5 linked regions of the Homo sapiens genome follow. The protein of the gene in region 5 purifies or fractionates together with the protein of the main gene of each other region. This does not show direct contact. Each region holds a gene or a part of one and is shown on either strand. Other genes may lie near its edges. The genes, in order: CNTROB, IPO9, SMYD2, TBC1D9B and PPFIA1.

Region 1 (4,040 bases), on a different chromosome or scaffold from region 5:
AAATCTTGTCATAGACCGTCTTCCAAAGCATTCATGTCTTTTCCCACAGGAAATGACATATAAACATGTAACATATAAAAAAAGTACTCAACCAAATGTGGTTTCTTTACGAAGTGATTCCCTACAAAACCTCTATTTTCCAAATTCCTATGAGCCAGAGACTCTGATACAGACTAATGAGCATTTATTAAAATAACAACAATGAGAGAACAAAGAGGAGAGAGGGTAGGGGGGCTCATCTCCAGACTCCCCCCCGGCTCCTCATGCTACTCGGGGCAGGGTGCCCACTTTTCTTCCGTGCGGGAGGTTTTTCAGTCTTGGGGGCTGTAGCAAGGCGGCGAGGGACAGCCTGGGAGGGAATCTGAGAGTTGAGGGAAGAGAGAGGAAGAAATCAGCGTCAGATCCTCTCAATTCCCCACCCCACTGAGGAAATGCACGTGGAGAGGGCCAGATGAGTCTGCAGGGAGGAAAGGCCATGCTACAGAATGCAGGGGTGGAATGGAGGGGCCAGCCAGGAGTGTGCAGAGGTGAAGGAGCTGGTCAGTGAGAGCCCTTTTCTCCCCTGGTCCCTGCCTGACTTTCCCTCACCTCTTTCCGGGGGATCTCACCCAAGCGGGAGTCTGTGTTCCTTCTGGGGACATTATCCCCTCGGCCATCAGTCCTGCTACACAAATCAAAGGTATGAGGATGGGGATCTCCGTCCCCCCGGTTACCCAATACTGGATGGAAGAACTACTCCCCAATTCTATCTCTTAAGAATAAGATCAAACTCGATAGACCTGGGCATCAACTGGGAGGAGACATTAGTGGAAGTAAATAACGAGTTACACTAGCTAGTCAAAAGTCTAGGATTCTGAGTTTTGAGCTGAGGGGTAAAGAGGAAAAAAACGAAGGTAGAGAGACCCGGGGAAAAGATTTTTTTGTTTAGAAGAAAAAAGCAATAGAAAGGAGGAGATAAAAGAAAAGTGTGGGGCAGTTAGAGAAGATCTGTGGATCCACCTCTCATCCTTCACTTTCCTCCCCAGAAAAGGACAACGATTCAATTCAGTGTAAAACACACCCACTCCACTCCCCATAATCCAGCTTCCACCCGGAGAATCCTTCCTCCTTCCTCCCAGGCTTGTACCCGCTGTGTTCCAGCCTCTTCAGGTAGAGCAGGAGATCCTCAGCAGGCAGAGCCCCCCAGCCCCGAGCCTGGTAGAGTCGCAACAGTTGAGACACCTCCATCAGCTGCCTTGGGAATGTAAGCCCATCTCCACCTGACAGACATCGCAATAATCACAGGCGTCATCCTAGGGCCTGTCTCCCCAGCCCTCAGCCCATTTCCCCAGGAATTCAGAAGGACTGTAAGTGCCTGTACTGGATCCACACTCAGGACTGTCCCTCCTTTTTTCCCTAATAAACCAGAACATGCTCACCTCTCTCTGGGGAACCACTGCTGGGACCACTGCCTTGTGAATGGGAGGAGGGAGGCTCAGGGACCCGGAAAAGACTGGATGCCATGGCTAAGGGAACTTTGGTTTTGTGGACAGGCGGTGGAATACGTGGCACTTGAGGGGCTTCCTCCCAAGATGGGACAGTCAGAGGACCTAGCAAAAGGAAAGAATGCCAAGAATCAGGAAATGGGGCATAGAACCAAGGAAGTCCCACCACCCAGCATTTATAAGGCTTTATTACTTTTGCCAGCTCCTAAAAATTCATCCTAGATAACCAACTCCGATCTTTCCTAGGCCCCAGCCCCAACCTTCTTCAGAGTTGGAACTCACCAGACTTAGGGGGCAACAGGTCGACAGAAGGGTTCTCATTGTTCTGGGGCACTGTCTCCAGCAACTGTGGGTGAATAAGATTGTCAAGTTCCCTAGGGACTGATAGAGAAAAACGCCCAGGGATCTGAGAGAAGAAGCTGGGACAAAGAGTTAGTCATAAACAGGGAATGAGGCCAGAGTCCTGGATTCCCAGAGCAGAAAGAGGAAAGGAGAAAGGGAAGAAGAAAGTGAGCTAGTCTGGGTGGAATCTCTCTTACCTGGTGCAAAAAATTCTTGAGGCCCTCCAGCTGAGCAGGCGGCAGCCCTTGCTTTAGGAGGCCCTCCCCGTCAGGTCCAGGATCTTCCTCAGGGAATGGCCTTTCTGCCCTATGATCGGGATGGAAGGCCCCAAGTGCAGAGAAGGCCCCAGCTATAAAGTGAAACAGGTATGGGTGGGTGCAAGTGTGTTCAGGGGGGAAGGGGCTTCTCCACAAATCAACTCACCTAATACTCAGAAGAAAGGGGCCTATTAAATGGAAGAGGAACATCACAGCTAAGAGAAGATGAAGATGGAGGTTTAAAGTAGCTGGAGAGGGAAGGGTTGGAGGTGACTGAGAGATGGCACAGCTGAATTCTAAGACAGAAATATAGACAGAAGAAAGCTGTGGTACTCAAACTCTAAACAAATAAATACCCTCACAAACTCCCTGAAGAATGGAAATGAGTAACACACATGTTCTGACCTCTTCCCCCGAATATGCCTCATTCTTTTATTATTCTCACATAATTAAAAAATTTTTAATTGTGCTACAACTAATCTCTCTTTTTTTTTTTTTTTTTGAGATGGAGTCTCGCTCTGTCGCCCAGGCTGAAGTGCAGCGGCGCGATCTCGGCTCACTGCAAGCTCCGCCTCCCGGGTTCACACCATTCTCCTGCCTCAGCCTCCCGAGTAGCTGGGACTACAGATGCCTGCCACCACGCCCGGCTAACTTTTTTGTATTTTTAGTAGAGACGGGGTTTCACTGTGTTAGCCAGGATGGTCTCGATATCCTGACCTTGTGATCTGCCCGCCTCGGCCTCCCAAAGTACTGGGATTACAGGCGTGAGCTGTAATCTCTTTTTTTTTTTTTTAAGAGACAGAGTCTTGCTGTGTTGCCCAGGCTAGAGTACAATGGCAACTTCTTAGCTCACTGTAGCCCCAAACTCCTTGGCTCAAGCAATCCTTCTGTCTCAGCCTCCCTGGGTAGCTGGAAATTTGGGTGTGTGCCACCACATCCTGCTAACTTTTTATTTTGTGTAGAGATGAGGTCTCACTATATGGGTCAGACTGGTCTGGAACTCCTGGCACCAAGCCATCCTCCCACCTCAGCCTCCCAACGCGCTAGCATTACAGGCGTGAGCCACTGCACCCGGCCCCATCCCTCATTTTTAATTCGACCTAGGTTGTCATGTTTGTACCACACAGAATGCCCCCATCCACTCAAATCACAGGTGACATTAAACTAGGGGTGGACACCACACCCAAGGTCAGCCAATCCAATCAGATGGCCTCTTTAAACTGGACCTAAAAAAACTGAGACACCGATGTCTCTATAAATGTCTAGAGGCTCAGCTAGAGTCAGTATCACAGCTGGTCAAACCCATGTGTAAACTGAAGTTATGAAGGGTGAGAACCTTGAATGCTGGTCTAGCAAGAAAAAAGAGCAGATGTGCAGGAGAGGTGGACCCAGGAGGCTATGCAGGCCCACAGAAAAGGGCCAGCTAGCTGCCTCAGTTCCTGATAGTACCCCGTTCCCAACTCCAGTTCTCATTAAGTCCAGCGATGTCATATTTCCATGAGATCTCAATCCCTTTATTTGGACCAATGTGAGCAGATTTCTGCTCCTTGCAACTTGCGATCACTAAAGGCATCTGGGAAACTAAATGCTCAAGTATCAGACAGAAAGCAGGGTACGAAAGAGGGAGCCAATTCATGCACAGAAGGGGAACCCCAGTGACTTCTGCCCCCAGTTACCTGTGGATGAAGTGAGGTCTGGTTTGGGCTCCAGGGGCTGGAAAGAATGCTGGCTCTGAAAAGAGGGGCCCAACAGGAGGCTAAGATCTGAGGAGGAACTGCAAAGAACAGGAGGCGCTCCAGGTAGCTCGTCCCTTGCTTCCCGGCTCTGCTGCAATACAGGCTTCAGGGCCACGGCCATGGGAGGCATAGTCCAGACCCTCCTCTCCTCCTTCTCGGGCTCCTGAGGCCCGGGGCTGGAGGGTCCAGCAGGAGGAGCCTGACCAGGAGAGAGGCAGAAA
Region 2 (4,040 bases), on a different chromosome or scaffold from region 5:
ATCATTCAATGTGTAACTATGGGATGCCTACTCAAGGCACTTGTAGGATACAAAGATTAGACATGATTTCTACTCTCAGAGACCTTACTAGTAGGAGTAAGAAAACATATTCAACAATGCAGCATATGATAAGTACAGAGTGAAACAGGATATTCCCAACGCATCTGAGCTCTGGATGTACAACCATTTTAATTTGTGATTCAGAGAATGGAAGTGATGGACTGAGACACCCGATAATAGATTACCTATTTAAAATCACAGAGCAGAACATTTTCAAATGACATAAGCTACTCCCAGAACTATCCTATGGAGAGGAAGTAAATGGACCGAAAATGGAGCAAACAATACCAAAGGTTCCATGATTTAAGTACTGAGAGAGAAAGCAAAGGCAGTGTTTTCGGATGGTGATCTGGCTCCAAGGATGAGAAAAGGCATGGCATGGCAGAAGCAAGTAGCAGAAAATGCCACATAGACAACAATGATTCTCAGCTACTGCTCTGTATTGCGGAAGAAATCGGTCTAATAGTAAAGGGCTACCTTTTTTTTTTTTTTAAACCAAGTCTCGCTCTGTCACCCAAGGTGGAATACAGTGGTGTGATCTCAGTTCTCTGCAACCTCTGCCTCCTGGTTCAAGTGATTCTCCTGCCTCAGCCTCTTGAGTAGCTGGGACTACAGGCTCCTGCTACCACACCCAGCTAATTTTTATATTTTTAGTAGAGATGGGGTTTCGCCAAGTTGGCCAGGCTGGTCTTGAACTCCTGACCTCAGGTGAGTCACCTGCCTTAGCCTCCCAAAGTGCTGGGATTAGAGGCATGAGCCATCGCGCCTGGCCTACTTTTTTCTTTTTAAGACAGATGGCTAACATGGGTATGAGAATGGAACATTTTAATTATTTGGATATTGGCCAAAAATAAAGTTTGAGAAAAATGACAGGAAACAAACAGGAAGAATGTGCCTGATACAGAATGCCTGAGGGCATTCTGGACTTAACAATGGGAGCAGTACTCGATAATTCTCAAGGTACAGCAACCAGATTTGGATTCCATTCAAATGCCAAAAACAACCATGAATGGGAACGCCAATTTGGGAAGAAACATAAACATCACGGAAGAATTATGAACTAGGCAATATTAGATTGTCATTAGGTGAAGCTTGAATCGGCCTCTGGGCTGTTTTAGAGGTTCGGATGAGTTCAAGCTGTAGGGTGCAAACAATTTTCACTCAAAGGACACAAGAATATCTGGCCTACCAGTCTAAGTGAACAATATAACCAAGTTAATGACAGGTTTAAAGAGTTTCCTTTATATATATATATATATATATATATATTATACTTTGAGTTCTAGGGTACATGTACACAATGTGCAGGTTACATATGTATACATGTGCCATGTTGGTGTGCTGCACCCATTAACTTGTCACTTACATCAGGTATATCTCCTAATGCTGATCCCTCCCCCAACCCCACAACAGGTTTAAAGAGTTTCTAGAATCCTGGCACGTGCTGAAACATACCTGAGAGGTTGAGGTCTGCAAGGATGACATTGGTCAGGAACCCATGCATGTCAAAATGAATCCTGCCATTTTTCACACTGTCAGTGATGATGGCCTTCACTGAGCCTAGGGCAAGCATGCATGCCTCATGGATCTTCCACCTGTGAAAGGATACTACAGCCTAGTAAAACATACTAAACTGCCAAAAGAGATAAATATTTGAGGAAACAAGATTCAGAAAAGGGCACTCCAGCACAATCTCTTCCAAAAGAGTCATTTACCTTAAGCCCTTCCATTCTAACCTATAGCTGAAAAGAGTGAAATTTTAATAATAAGAGATTAAAATCTGTTATTAAATTAAAACCAGATTTTCAAATTAAGATAAAAATAAATCCATCCTTTCAAGACTTTTTAAGAAGGGGTAAACAAAAGCATCTTAACCAATTAGCGGCTCACTCTTACCAGTGCTCAGTGCCACTGTTTTTGGTTTGCTCAGCTTCTTGTAAATGTCGAGTGGCTGCAGCAGCCAGGGCTGCTGCACTTTCATTCTGGAAATCTGTGGCCACAGCCTATAGAGAGAGAAGAGCTAATAAATCTGTTTGTGCCCATTAAATGCATTTTAATTGTAAACCGCTTCAGTCATGACTGTTAGAAGTGATTGGTTCAAGCTCTTTCACATACATGTGCAAACCCCTAATTGTATTAAAAATGTTATACCAGTAGGTCAGGGTCTCTAATGAAATTAAAGTAGTATCTGTATTTCGGTAGTGCCTAGGCATTGTAAGGCTAACCAGTTGGCTCCTTTGGCTATATTCAGCAGAGCATAAGTGAGCAATAATAGATCTAGCTTTGGATGACAATGGACCAAATATTTGCTCTCTTGGAGACTGATGATAGAAAAATAAGTCTAATCTACTAATTGGAACTGAATATAATCTTTCACAGCTCCTTAGAAATACTAAATGATAATGAGAAGTGATTCATCAACAGAGAACAAATCTCCTACCCAACAAGAAGCAAGTGGCAGTTTCTTCTTAGTATTTCAGCCTAGAGACAACTCTATGCTCTAGTCAGAAGAGGCAAAGAAAACATGAGCAGGTATTTGGATGTTAATCTTTCAGCAATCTGTTTTGTTTTGCTAGGTTTGCCAACCTTTTGTCTGTGCTATAGATTCTTGTTGAAGAGTGAATTAAACTGAAATGGCTTTTTTTTTTTTTTTTGAGACCAAGTTTCACTCTTGTCGCCCAGGCTGGAGCGCAATGGTGTAATCTTGGCTCACCACAACCTCCGCCTCCCGGGTTCAAGCAATTCTCCTGCGTCAGCCTCCCGAGTAGCTGGGATTACAGGCATGCGCCATCACGCCCGGCTAATTTTGTATGTTTAGTAGAGATGGGGTTTCTCCATGTTGGTCAGGCTAGTCTTGAACTCTGGACCTCAGGTGATCTGCCCGCCTCGGCCTCCCCAAGTGCTGGGATTACAGGTGTGAGTCACCACGCCCAGCCATAAACTGAAATGTTCTTGATTCAACTACCCTTACTCCATGGAACACTTTATCCTCTATACAATTCTCCCCCGCACCCCGGCCCTATGGTCTGCACAATTCTTTTATCTAATATTTAGTTTTAAGTTAGAACCAGTAGCAATGATTTTAGAATTTCTGAGTCTCGAATTTCATTTCAGAAACTCTCTTGCATCCCCAATAAAGTCTGAGATAAAGCCACCCAACAACACTGCTCACCTTGGATTAGTTGTCTACAAAAAAGAAGAAATGCTCAAGTGACTGATAGAAATTATGTGGCTGAAGTATCAAGGTAAACTTACCAGCAACAAGTCTTGAGCTGCTATTCTAACAGTATAGGAGAATGTATCATCATCTTCATCTTCTACAAATTGTTGGGGGTTGGCTGTCCATACTTTAATCTGAAAAGATCAAGTTATGTCTTTGTGATGCTGCCAATCTGATTCATAGCTTTTCATCAACAGATACAGGAAGATTTCAACCTATTATCCTGAAAAAACTCTAGCCTTTTGCTGGATGCAATGGCTCACAACTGTAATCCTGACACTTTGGGAGGCCAAGGTGGGAGGACTGCTTGAGCCCAGGAGTTTGAGACCAGCCTGGGCAACATAGTGAGACCCCACCTCTACAAAAAATAAAAAAGTCAACTGGGCATGGTGGCATATGCCTGTGGTCTCAGCTACTCGGGAGGCTGAGGCAGGAGGATGGCTTGAGCCTGGGAGGTCAAGGCTGCCGTGAGCTTTGTCTACACCACTGCACTCCAGCCTGAGCAAAACAGCAAGACCCTGTCCCAAAAAGCAAACAAAACAAAACAACAACAACAACAAAAACTGAAACAAAAACTCTAGCTTAAAAAAATCTTTTCTTTTTGATGTAGAGAAATAAATACTATTAAGTAGCAAGGTAGGTAGCAATGGCTATTGCTCTCTTTTAGAATCTGGCTGATTACTAGCTCTCTGCCAATGTCAACCTGCTGTTACCCTTTGATAGATCGATTTTCTGAATAGATTAAGTCTGATAGACTATT
Region 3 (4,040 bases), on a different chromosome or scaffold from region 5:
ATGATCCATCTGTCCCCAGCTGGTAGGTCCCCATATCCTCTCAGGTATCCCGAGGGTCATCTCTGTCTTTTCCTCTTTGCTCTGCAGCTGAGGAGGGAGCTGATTAGTCTGCAGGGAGACAGACCCACCTGTTCCCACCTCTTCGCCTCATCACCATGCTCTCATTTTAGGCTTTGGCTAAAAACAGATTCTCTTCTCCCTTGTGCATATCTTGTCATTTCTTTTCCTCCCTGCTCTTAGTTATATTTGGCGCGGCATTATTTAACTCTGCAGAACATCTTGGCCCAGAACTTGAGCTAAGGGGCTGCACCATAGACTGCATTAAATCATTAAGTGACATTATGTGCTTCCTTCTTGGGGGATCAGTGTGGAGGGAAGCGGGTAGGGAGATATCTTCATTCCTTCAACAACTATATTGAGTGCCTACTAAATGCCAGGCACTGTTGTCAGTTCTGGGGTTACAGCTATGAACAAAACAAAATTTCTTTATTTTCCTGGGGAGAGACAGATACTAAACCAAACAACTAATAAATATATAATATGCTCAGGTGGTGAGAAGTACTAAGAAGCAGCAGAAAGCAAGGAAAGGAAGAATGATGGGGAAGTGCTCTTTCTGACAGGGTGATTGTGGCAGGTATCTTGAGAAGGTGACATTCCAGCAGCGGCTGGAGAGGAGGGAGGGAGTCACATGGATATCCAGGGGAGGAGAGTGCTAGCCACAAAACAGAGCAAGTGCGAAGGGCCTTGAGGCAGGTACATGGCTCCAGGCGCAGCCAGGACACTTCTGTGGCTAAGTGCAGTGAGGCAGGTGAGAGTACGGTGGGGGATGATGGGCTGGGGTGGTGCAGGGACGCTCCCATCACGTGTGGCCTCCTAGGTCACCTTTAGCGCTTGGCCTTTTGCCTGGATGAGAAAAGCCATTAGGTTTTGAGCTGAGGACTGGCCTGATCCGAGTTTTGTCAACAGAATCCCTCAGGCTGCTCTCTGGAACCTAGTCCATGGGAGCAAGGACAGAAGCGGGCATCCAGTTAGAAGGCAGTGGCAGGACATTAGTCATGAGAGATGTTGGGGCTGCAGCCGGGTAGAAAGGTTGTGGAGCTAAGAAGTGATCAGATTCCAGGCAGAGACAGAGGATTTGCCAGAACTGACTGAATGTGGAGTGTGAGTGAGAGAGCAGCGTCAAGGATGACTCTAGCTTTCTGGCCTGAGCATTTATTTTTATTTTTGAGACAGAATCTCACACTGTTGCCCAGGCTGGAGTGTAGCGGTGCACTCTCGGCTCACTGCAACCTCTGCCTCCTGGGTTCAAGCGATTCTCCTGCCTCAGCCTCCTGAGTAGCTGGGACTGCAGGCACATGCCACCACACTTGGCTAATTTTTTTATTTTTAGTAGAGATGGGGTTTTATCACGTTGGCCAGGCCAATCATAAACTCCTGACCTCGGGTGATCCGCCCATGTCAGCCTCCCTGCCCTGAGCATTTATGGCCATTTTCTGAGCTAGGGAAGGCCAAGGACAGAGCAGGACAGTACCCAATTCCATCGTGAAAGAGACAGTGTGTAAGGGCTTCCATCAGTATACAACGTGCTCTGATATTTCCCATCTAAAAAAAAAAAAAAGTCCCCCGCAACTTTTCACTACTCTAAGCTGTGTCTCCTTTCATTTTTTCTTGAATCTGCTCCCTGTCATTTCTTACCCCATCATCCCACCAAAACTTGTTTTTATGAAAATCATCAAGCTTCCATGATTCCAAATCACATTCTCCGTCCTCTCACACTAAGCCTATCTCCAGCACTGGCATCATCATTTACTCCCTAGTCCTCAAAGTACTTGCTTCCCTCAGCCTCCAAAACACCATGGTGTCCTTCTCTCAATGCCTTCCCCATCTCAAGTGATGGCGCCTCCACCCTTCCAGCAGCAAATATCCTTCATCCCTCTACCCGGGGCAGGGAAACTTCAGGGCGTATGATAGAAAGAATACTACTGTTAGGCCAGGCACGGTGGCTCACGCCTGTAATCCCTGCACTTTGGGAGGCCGAAGCAGGTGGATCATGAGGTTAAGAGATCAAGACTATCCTGGCCAACATCTTGAAACCCCGTCTCTACTAAAAATACAAAAATTAGCCGGGCGTAGTGGCACACACCTGTAATCTCAGCTACTCAGGAGGCTGAGGCAGGAGAATCACTTGAACCCGGGAGGCAGAGGTTGCAGTGAGTCGAGATCGCGCCACTGCACTGCAGCCTGGCAACAGAGCGAGACTCTGTCTCAAAAAAAAAAAAGGAAAGAAAGAATACTACTGTTTTATCCAGTGCATCTTTGGGAAGTCCTAACTATTCCTAAATCTTTCCAGTGGTTGCCCTTCATGAAACCCTCATTTGTGCTTTTTAAAAAGTCGCCTGTAAAAGGGACTCATTGCTGTGTAAGTCAACTCTCCATTATTTGCCCTGACGTGAGAACAAAGCCAGAGCGGAACTGTGAGGCAACAAAGCCAAATCAATGGCTGATACTCAAATTGCTCCCTCTGCAATTTGACAGCTTGCACAGATGATGGAAAGATGTATGTGTTGTTTAGAATAATGAGGGGCTGCAGAAAGCCATGAGGTGCTTGAGGAAAAAACACAAAGTAGATCTTCTCATCCCAACAAGCTTGACCCAGGCCTGAGTGAAGGTCATACAATCCTGCCTATCTTAAAGGATGTTTTTATCTCTAGCTTTTGTGAGCATCCTCGTGTTTTCCAAAAGGAAACATATTTTACTTGACCTTAACTAGGGGGACTCACTGCATCCTCTCCTCTCACACTTTATTCCAGTGTATGTGCTATTTTTTAATAATGTTTTTTTCAATCTTCCCAGAAAGAAGATTGGCCCATGCACAAGCTGGAATGTTCTCCCATGGTTGTTTTTGGGGAAAACTGGAATCCCTCGGAGACTGTAAGACTAACAGCAAGGATTCTGGCCAAACAGGTGAGGAAATGGGACAATGTTCAAGTGCATTTTATTTTGTTTTTCTTTTAAAGGTCAGAAAGATGAGTAACTGACCTTTGGTAACCATCTCTCGTTAAACATCCTTAGACTACATTTCCTATCATATCCATATGGACAGGGGTGGGGAAAATACTCCAGGCATAATCTAGTTAGTTGTGTGCCCTGTGCAATTAGGATGTTGCTTACCCTAGACCAGGAGCATAGCCACAGCTCTGAAATTCTGAGCTGTTTTCATGACAGGTTTACATGGAAATACGTGACATGAAAAGCCTGACCTCAAATAATTAGAGCTTCCTAGGGAACCAGATTGGTCTGAGCAGCTTTGAGATTTTCCTCTCTTTCCATTCTGACATAAAGAGTGTACTCTGTTCCCCTTTCCTGTGTAATATTCTGCTCTTTCTTGGCTCCTTTCTTGCCTGTGCATAGGCAGGCAAAGAATTGGATGGAACAGCCTTGACTATGACATGTGCAAAGAAGAGAAAGAGTGGAAAAGTAGAAATAGAGGCAAGGGAGAGGGGAAGAGAGTTAAAAAAAAAAAGTGAAGAAGAAGGAAAGAAAGAGGTGCCCTTGATGGAAACAGATGATAGTCATCAATGGCTTTCTCCAGAAGTGATGCCAACTCTGACTATTCTGTGGTGGGCAGGACTATGCAAACTTACGCTCAAAGAGTGAGGAAGCTGAGAGACAGAAGAAAGAAGCTGACAAATCCAGTTTATTAGAAACATTTACTAGGACTTATGAACTGAAGCCATGTCTATGTCTTGGGCGGCAGCAAGACAAGATGGTGGATCCCTGCACCATTACCCACCAGAGCCAGGGCTTATATACCATAGGGAAGAAATGTGTACAGCAGTTACAAGGAAAGGCAAGGATGCTATGCAAATCTGCCTGAGAGCAAGATTTGTGCTCAAGATTGTATTGACCTAAGGCAGGATTTAAGGTAGCCATAGACAAAGTAGAAATCTTAGAAGCATTCCCAGAGCAGGAGTTAACCAGAAATCAACATGGTATATCAGCATCCAAGATGAAATTGCTTTAGCCACCGTACTGACTGT
Region 4 (4,040 bases), on a different chromosome or scaffold from region 5:
AAGTTGGGAGGCCTAAGCAGTGGTTGGGGGCCACAGCAAGGCATTGCACACAGTGGTTTTTATTTCTTTCAGGGATTTATTAAGGCATTGAGCACAGTGTAATTTCTAGCCAAGTGAAATGAATCCAAGGAAATATATCAGGACCTGAGGGATGTTTTTTTAAAGTTACTGGAAAGGATGATGAGCTGAGAGCACGTGTACAGCCACGCCTGTGCGCAGCGCCCACTCTGTGCAATAAACATGTTCTGCCCATGTTCCTCAGTCAGGAGGTTCAGGCTCCCGGAGAGCACCTGAGGGTTCCATCACTTTGGTGCCCAACAAGCACATGCCCCCCAACCTGGTGCCAAGAGGCAGGAATGACCCCCATACCACATAGCTGCAGGAAAGCATCCACGGATGGAGGGACTCAGCTGGCCTGGCCGCAGTGTGGAGCACAGAGGTATGAGGCAAGCAAGGGCAGATCTGAGAGCCTGTAATGCTAGGCAGGTGCAGCTGGTGCGAGGCGGGCTCCCACCAGGTGTAAGGAAGGTGGGAGCCACAGCCTCTTCCTGGGCCCAGAAGCAGCCGGCGCCAGGAGATGCAGGCCCAGGGAATCTGTCTAAGGCAGCTGGGTCTGCACCAGCCTTCTTTCCACTCACAACTCACTGCTCCTGGGAGAGCAGGAGGGGCACACCTTTAAAGAGAAACTGATAAGGGAGGAAAGGCAGGAGGAGATGAGGCCAGCCCCACTGATGACACCTTGGGCCAGGCCTCACAGCTGCAGGCATCAGCCGGAAACTCCAGGCTGCTCATGGTCACTGGCGGTGCTGAACTGTCTCTCCACTTTCTTTTGGTCCTTGATCTTGAGTCCAATGTCCACTCTCTTCTCAAAGAAGTTCACCAGCACGGACTCCGTCAGGATGGAGGCCAGGATCTGCTCAAAGGAGATGCACCAGTCGGTGTCGACGGTGCCGCCGATGCGCGCTGTGGGGCTGCAGGCCTCCCCGCCCACCAGCACCGTGTCGTCTGCAAGGTCTTCACATTGCAGGGAGCCCGTGCTGACCACCGAGTAGGAGGACATGGACATGTCGTCTTTGGTTTCATCGTCAGACAGCAGCTGGGAGGGTGAGCCCTGTCCCTCGCCGCTGCCCCCCTCCACCACCACCTGGCTCTCCTGTGGGGCTTTTCCGAGGTGTGTGTCTCCGCCTGCTTTGGCTTGGGGGTCTCCTGCAGCTGGGGGCTGAAGCTCCCTGGCTGCGTCCTGATGCAGTTCGGGTGCTGGTGGCTCGTCCTCCTCAGTGGCACAGTCCCTGGGCTTCCTGCCTGTGCGGGCTGAGAACTTCTTCCCCACCTCTCCGATGCGGAGCAGGAGGCTGGCCACGGTGGCGATGGCGTGGTACAGGTCCTGCTCCATGGGGTCTTCACTGAACATGTTGTAAAGCGTCTTGCACAGCTCAATGAACTGCTCCTTTTAGGGAGAAAAACAGAAGAACAGGGAGATGGTAAAAGACCAGTCAGACGGGGTCCATATTAGCCAAACTGATGACAAGCACCAGCCTAAGGATGTTGGCTGCCGTCTTGCTAATCATCTCCATGAGCCTCATCAGTCCCATCTCACAGATCAGGACACAGGCTCAGAGAGGCCACACAGCTCTTCAAAAGGCTTTCCCCTCCAGCTGCCTTTCTCTTGGCACTCAGAGCATGCTGGTCTGACCTGGGGCCTCCCTGTTTCTAGGTCCGTTCTGTTGGCACAGGGAGATGGATTTCTACCACGACTCTAAATCCAGTCAGTACAAGGACTTCGTTGTGTTTTAGAATCACCTTTGGTTTTAATCAGAAGCAGCCTCAACTCAGCCCTTGAATGAAGCTCTTTAGAAGGTGATGGTGAGGAAAATACAGCCTGGGTCAGCTGGGGAGGGGGATCCTGGGGAGGGGGGTGCTGGGGAGGGTGGGTGCTAGGTCCTGAAGCCACACGTCTAGGCCTCCTGGCCCAAGAATGGGAAGAATCCTCATCGCACGTGGTGCCCACCCTCCAGGCCTGCTGGGGGAGTGGTCAGATTGCAGGGTCCCCTACTGGGCACAGCTAGACCGTGGGTCTGGCCCGAGGGCCATGGTCAGGCTGGTGCTCCAGACTTGCCTTTGGCTCAACGCTTGCAGTTTGGAGCTGGGGTCTCCCATTTTCTGGCTTTGAGACCCTTGGCAAGACACCATGCTTCTGATCTGCGAGACCAGTGAATGAAGAGCGGGTGTGGAGGATGCATGTGAGCCTGCGTGTGCAGAGCCCTGGGCAGGGCTGGGAGGGTGCAGGGTGTGGAACGCATATCTTGTCAAAGGTAGCCTACAAGCCTCTGGCTCCTGGTTCACAGACACTCACTCAATCTGGAAACATGCCCCTATACAAGGCCCTGGAGCAACTGGCCTCTTGTCTTTCTGGAATCATCGCTGACTGGCAACCAGGACTAACGGGCTCTAGAGGCAGGGAGGAGCCTTCCCACCCACCAGGAGATGCTGCAGTGCAGGTGCGGTGATGTTAGGGCCCAGTCTTGGTCAGAACTCTCCAGAAATGTCTACTGTGGGCTCCAGTGGAGCCTACCTGGTTCATCTTGGGAAGATCCTTAATCGTCTCCTTCTGAGCCTCTTTCTCCTTGGCCCACATTCGAAGGTAGTGCCGATAGTCCGGAGAGCTGGTCCCCTTCTCCTCTGCAGGTTAGGAGGAAAGAGATTAATCTTTGTCATGTGAGACGGCTGCGGGCTGACAGCAGGGAGAGGAAGAGTTGGGTGTTTTCTGGCATGGAGTTACCAGGGCCCTATCATAAAACACCCTGGCGTTTGGGAAGGTGGTCATGGGAAAAAAACCCAGAACAGCCACAGGTTTTCCCTAAATTGCTGCAGTGGTTGGACCTAAGCTGATGACAATGATCCACAATGTCTTCTCTCAGATGGGGAGTCACAGGGCAGCTGGAGAGAAGCTGGCAAGAGAGGGCTGGCTGGGTGCCCGTGGGGCTGGTGGAGAGCGTGGAGCCTCCTGTGCATCCCGAGGCCTGCTCCCTGATCGGGGGACGCATCCGCCATCTCCCGGGGTAGGGGGCTCCCTGGCAGTGACTGGGGAAAAGACCAGCAAGCAAGGGTGCCTCAACGCTGGGGTCTCTAAGAACAGCGGCAGAGAATGGCCTGTACCTCCTCTCTCCTCACTTCCACTTCCTTCTTGCTCTTCCTGTGGTAGTGCTTCTGGACAAACGCAAAAATAAAAAGAACATGAATAACATTCTGCTGTTGGGACTGCAAGCTCCTGGGGTCCTTGAGATGTAGTCTGTGTTTCTGTACAGCCAGCCCCAGGCCAGGCCCTGGGGAGCAGGTCTCCCATGCCACACCTCCTGCCTGGCCCGCCCAGCCCCGCCCTATGGCACCAGAGCAAAAGGGCCTGAGCATTCCCTCACTTGGTCAGGTTAAAATAAAGGCCGCCAAACCCTCAATTCCTTTTTTCAAATGAATACAAGTCTCAACATGCTGGTTTTGACGTGAACAATGATGAGGGCTATAGACCAGTCTGAGGACTAACGAATTCTATAGTTCCTGCTAGAACTCTGGGGAATGTTCCTGCTAGAACTCAGGGGAACCCTAATGACCCCTTCCACCCGCGCCTGCTGTGCCTGTTACTGAGGGGTGGTCTGTGCACAGCTCCTGTGCTTGGTGCAGCGTTTCGGGGAGGACATTTGCCGGAACTGGCGCGCACTATACTCCCTGCGTGGGAACATGCACCTGGGGAGAGAAGCAGCCGACCAGCTCTCCTGGAGCTGTTCCCCAAAGGCAGTGTGGCTGGTGGGGGCACCTCAGGCAGGTCGGCAGCACCCCAGTTCTGAGCTGCTCTCGCTGGCTGTCTGGTGGCAGTGAAGGGCACACCTCTCTGGGCTCAGGCAACTCACCCTGGAATGGAGGCCCTGCTTCCTGGGGGCCACATGCGGTCTGAGGCCAGGGCTCTGCACCAACATGCCGCTCCCAGAAGCATGCGGGACAAGCCTAGAGTGGCCTGCTGGTTCCATGTACAACAGAAGGTGTACCTG
Region 5 (4,040 bases):
AATTATTTAGAAGTATGCTAATTTTTAAATATTTAGTAGGGGGTTCTAGATAGCTTTTTATTATTGATTTCTAATTTCTGTTGAAGTCAAGAGAATGTACCTTGATTTCAGTCTCTTTAAGTATGTTGAGATTTGTCTGTCTTTGAGAATATACTATACAGACATTAAAAGCATATATATTCTGTTGTTGGGTGGCATGTTCTATATTCTGTTGTTGGGTAGAGTGTTCTATATTCTGTTGTTTGGTGGATTGTTCTATATTCTGTTGTTGAGTGGCGTGTTCTATGTTCTCTTGTTGGGTGGCGTGTTCTGTATTCTCTTGTTGGGTGGCGTGTTCTATCTTCTGTTGTTGGGTGGCGTGTTCTACATTCCATTGTTGGGTGGAGTGTTCTATATTCTGTTGTTGGGTGGTGTGTTCTATGAAACGTCAGGTCAAGTTTGTTAAGGGTTGTTAGTTTAGGTTTTCTATATTCTTAATTTTTTTCTTTTTTTGCTTCTTTCATCAGTTGCTATGAGAAAGAAGTGTTGAATTTTTTCAACTATAATTGTGAATTTGCCTGTTTCCCCATTTAGTCCTGTTGGTTGTTGCTTTATCTCTTCTCTAAAACTATATTTTAACTGACTTTTACTGATTTTGAAATGGATTTTTTCTTTAGGAAAACAAAGTGTTAAAATGTAAACCAACCAGAGATAATTTTAGTGAGCAGTGTTGAATTGAGCCTTCAAACTTGTTCATGAGTCGTGATCAATCTTTGTCACATTATTATACTAAAAACTATCTCAGAGAGGAAATTTATAGCCAGTTACAGTTTTTTTGTAGTTTGATTTAAAAGTTAAATTTATCACAACGAATCATATATTTTTCATGTTACTATTCCTGTTGTATAAAAATTTTACTAACAAATTTAAAAGGTGAGAAGAGATCAAATTATTTTGCAATTATAAAATTATCATTAGTTTAGCCTTTGAGAATATAGGTAATAGATTAAAAATTCATTTTAAAAATGATATAAACTACTTTTGAGACTTCCTCTGTAACTGACCTTTTCCATTTATGAAAAGCAGACACTCGCCTATGGGGACATGAACCACGAGTGGATCGGCAACGAGTGGCTCCCCAGCCTGGGCCTCCCCCAGTACCGCAGCTACTTCATGGAGTGCCTTGTAGACGCCAGGATGCTGGACCACTTGACCAAGAAAGACCTTCGAGGGCAGCTGAAAATGGTCGACAGTTTTCACAGGTAACTTAATGGAGATAGTTCTTAATAATTGGCTAAGATTTTTCACTGTTACCATCTCTAAATCATCTCTCTTTTCTTCCAAATAGAAACAGTTTCCAGTGTGGAATTATGTGCCTGAGAAGGTTAAATTATGACCGGAAAGAACTGGAAAGAAAAAGAGAAGAAAGTCAGAGTGAAATAAAAGGTTAGTACATGACATTTAATTGATTCGGTTTACTCCTACTTGCTGGTGTGTTTGGAGCCTCAGTGACTTCCTATTTTTCAAAAAATCAAGAAAGGCTAAATTTAAGTGGAGAAAACTAACTAGTCTAGTGTCATTGCAGAGGAGGGCTGGATGAAGTTGAGTGCTTTTGAGATTCTCTTCCACAGCTAGAGAACTGTTCCCTGTGTTCTCACACATCAGTCTGGAGGTTAAATGTCTCCGGCTAGTCGTTTCCTGTGAGTTGAGAGTTTTCCTTTGGTCATGCCCTGTGTACTCCTTCACTCCGAAATGCTGTTCCACACTGTTAGATAACAACAGAGCAAAGCTCACTTGATGATTCAAGTGTGAGAAATATGACTGGGGGCTTATCCAAGGGGTTCAGGAGAACAGGAGAGCACCGTGCAGTTCTGCTCCCGGAGGGGAAGGAGAGGCAGCGTCTGCATTTCAGCTGGTCCTTGAAGAAGGAGGAGGAGCTGCTTAGGGTAAGGAAAAGGCATTTCAGTTGGAAAACACAGGCCAGGGAGGCGTTAGAGGATGTGAGACATTCATCCAGAAGACGTGGAGTTGGTTCTCTTCTCCGTTGGGGAGTCCCTCACTCGTACTCAAATTTATTTGTTTGTTTGTTTATTTATTTATTTAATTTATTTTGAGACAGGGTCTTGCTCTGTAGCCCAGGCTAGGCTGGAGTGCAGTGGTGTGATCACAGCTCACTACAGCCTTGAACTCCTGGGCTCAAGTGCTCTTCCTGCCTTAGCCTCCCTAGTAGCTCCTGGGAGTACAGGTGTGCTCCACCATGCCTGGAATTTTTTTTTTTTTTGTAGAGACAGGGTCTCGCTATGTTGCCTAGGCTGATCTCGAACTTTTGGGCTCAGGGGATCCTCCCACCTTGGCCTTCCAAAGTGTTGGGATTACAGGTGTGAGCCACCACACCCAGTCAGAATTTGCTTTTAAAATTAGACAGTAAACATTAAGCTCAGAGTAATGACTCCCAGAATTCCTGGAATGCAAGGAAGTCACCAATAACAATAATGATAAGAAGAGGCCAGTCTTACTAACAGTGAGTAGGTGCCAGGTGGTGTTCTAAGTACTCAGGGGTTGCTTTCTTTCATCTTTACCTTAGCCCTGTCAGTCTAAGTGCTGTTTTCATCCCCACTTTATACTAAGAAAGAAACTAAGGATAAAAATATGGTTGGGAGATGGCCCAGTTGAAGGGAAGTCTACTTGTGATTGAGTTAATGTGAATCAGGAGAAAAGTCGTAAGTCGACATTTATACAGTGTGTGTATATGTATGGACTTTTATCCAGAAAAGGGCATTGGCAATGAAATATGTCCATCTGTTTTGTTTTCTGTATCTATTTTACATCTTTTTCCAATAGACAAAGATCTTTGGAAGTGTCTTTGGAAGTGATTGGTGATCATCTGCATATATTTTTAGAGTGGCTATTTTTAGATCTAATAGAGCAAATTGAATAATTTGTTAATTTGCATAAGATATTGTGGCTGGGCATGGTAGCTCATGCCTGTAATCTCAGCACTTTGGGAGGCCAAGGCAGGAGTATTGTCTGAGCCCATGAGTTCAAGACCAGCCTGGGGAACATAGTGAGACCCTGTCAGTACAAAAAAATTAGCTGAGCTTCGTGACACACGCCTGTAGTTCCAGCTCCTCAGGAGGCTGAGGTGGGAAAAATCACTTGAGCCCAGGAGGTTGAGGCTGCAGTGAGCTATGATGGTACCAGGCTGTATCCAGCCTGGGTGACAGAGCAGGACATTGTCAAGAAAAAGAGAGGAAAAAAAAAGATTTTCTGCAAAGTCTCTAATGTGCTGGATGATATTGTTAAGTTTCTCTCATTTTAAAATGAGACAAAGACTTCGAGATTAGAAATGAGAGGTTTCTGTTGAATTGAGCAAAGTGTTCATATTATTATGGAGCCAGCTCCATCCGTGATGAAGTATTTCAGAAGACTCTCCAGTCTGTGTGTGAAGCATGTTTATACATGTTAGGTATTCAAGTTCTTGCAGTCCTCTGGCTTCTGATCCCTGGATCCTCATCATCTTCTTTTCTCTAGAAATAATAACTTCATTCCTCTCGTGCTCACTGGAAGGATGAGTTCTAATGGGAGAGTCTCCCTGAGAGTGGAGCAGGGCCAGGACACCATTGTCTCAGTGCAGCAAATGGTTGTCTATTTAGCAGTGTCTCCCAGCACTTTTCTCAGGAGCCGAAGGATTAGGAACCATGGTAGGAATCTTTCTCCTGCATTACAGGGTACATGTGATAAAGATGGCTTTCTGAAGCCACTTTTATAATTGTCTTTATTCTTTTGCAGACGTGCTTGTTTGGAGCAATGATCGAGTGATTCGCTGGATCCTGTCAATTGGCCTTAAAGAATATGCAAACAATCTTATAGAGAGTGGTGTTCACGGAGCACTTCTGGCCTTAGATGAAACCTTCGACTTCAGTGCACTGGCACTGCTGTTACAGATCCCGACGCAGAACACACAGGTGACGCCAAACCTGTCTGTGTCTGCACTCATTGTTCAGTTGGCACCCTGATTATAGACAGCTAGTTATTCGAATAGAAAGAAACTTTAAAAAAAA

Evidence for each region.
Region 1: the proteins of PPFIA1 (region 5) and CNTROB purify together in Homo sapiens (co-immunoprecipitation; one large-scale study listed by IntAct). This does not show direct contact.
Region 2: the proteins of PPFIA1 (region 5) and IPO9 fractionate together in Homo sapiens (co-fractionation; one large-scale study listed by BioGRID). This does not show direct contact.
Region 3: the proteins of PPFIA1 (region 5) and SMYD2 fractionate together in Homo sapiens (co-fractionation; one large-scale study listed by BioGRID). This does not show direct contact.
Region 4: the proteins of PPFIA1 (region 5) and TBC1D9B fractionate together in Homo sapiens (co-fractionation; one large-scale study listed by BioGRID). This does not show direct contact.

What each region holds. Positions count from the first base shown.
Region 1 is NC_000017.11:7,945,706-7,949,745, reverse strand, and holds part of CNTROB (centrobin), read right to left. Parts: intron 4,019-4,040; coding exon 3,760-4,018; intron 2,380-3,759; coding exon of another isoform or gene 2,246-2,379; exon of another isoform or gene 2,186-2,245; intron 2,176-2,185; coding exon 2,024-2,175; intron 1,831-2,023; coding exon 1,767-1,830; intron 1,590-1,766; coding exon 1,419-1,589; intron 1,260-1,418; coding exon 1,127-1,259; coding exon of another isoform or gene 1,061-1,126; intron 665-1,060; coding exon of another isoform or gene 662-664; coding exon 589-661; intron 362-588; coding exon 236-361; 3' UTR 1-235. UniProt on the Homo sapiens protein: Required for centriole duplication. Inhibition of centriole duplication leading to defects in cytokinesis.
Region 2 is NC_000001.11:201,856,470-201,860,509, reverse strand, and holds part of IPO9 (importin-9), read right to left. Parts: intron 3,415-4,040; coding exon 3,316-3,414; intron 2,064-3,315; coding exon 1,957-2,063; intron 1,656-1,956; coding exon 1,516-1,655; intron 1-1,515. UniProt on the Homo sapiens protein: Nuclear transport receptor that mediates nuclear import of proteins, such as histones, proteasome and actin. Serves as receptor for nuclear localization signals (NLS) in cargo substrates.
Region 3 is NC_000001.11:214,311,909-214,315,948, forward strand, and holds part of SMYD2 (N-lysine methyltransferase SMYD2), read left to right. Parts: intron 1-2,853; coding exon 2,854-2,964; intron 2,965-4,040. UniProt on the Homo sapiens protein: Protein-lysine N-methyltransferase that methylates both histones and non-histone proteins, including p53/TP53 and RB1. Specifically trimethylates histone H3 'Lys-4' (H3K4me3) in vivo. The activity requires interaction with HSP90alpha.
Region 4 is NC_000005.10:179,862,682-179,866,721, forward strand, and holds part of TBC1D9B (TBC1 domain family member 9B), read right to left. Parts: intron 3,208-4,040; coding exon 3,157-3,207; intron 2,680-3,156; coding exon 2,573-2,679; intron 1,448-2,572; coding exon 767-1,447; 3' UTR 1-766. UniProt on the Homo sapiens protein: May act as a GTPase-activating protein for Rab family protein(s).
Region 5 is NC_000011.10:70,371,150-70,375,189, forward strand, and holds part of PPFIA1 (liprin-alpha-1), read left to right. Parts: intron 1-1,043; exon of another isoform or gene 1,044-1,062; coding exon of another isoform or gene 1,063-1,065; coding exon 1,066-1,241; exon of another isoform or gene 1,242-1,327; coding exon 1,328-1,425; intron 1,426-3,768; coding exon 3,769-3,944; intron 3,945-4,040. UniProt on the Homo sapiens protein: May regulate the disassembly of focal adhesions. May localize receptor-like tyrosine phosphatases type 2A at specific sites on the plasma membrane, possibly regulating their interaction with the extracellular environment and their association with substrates.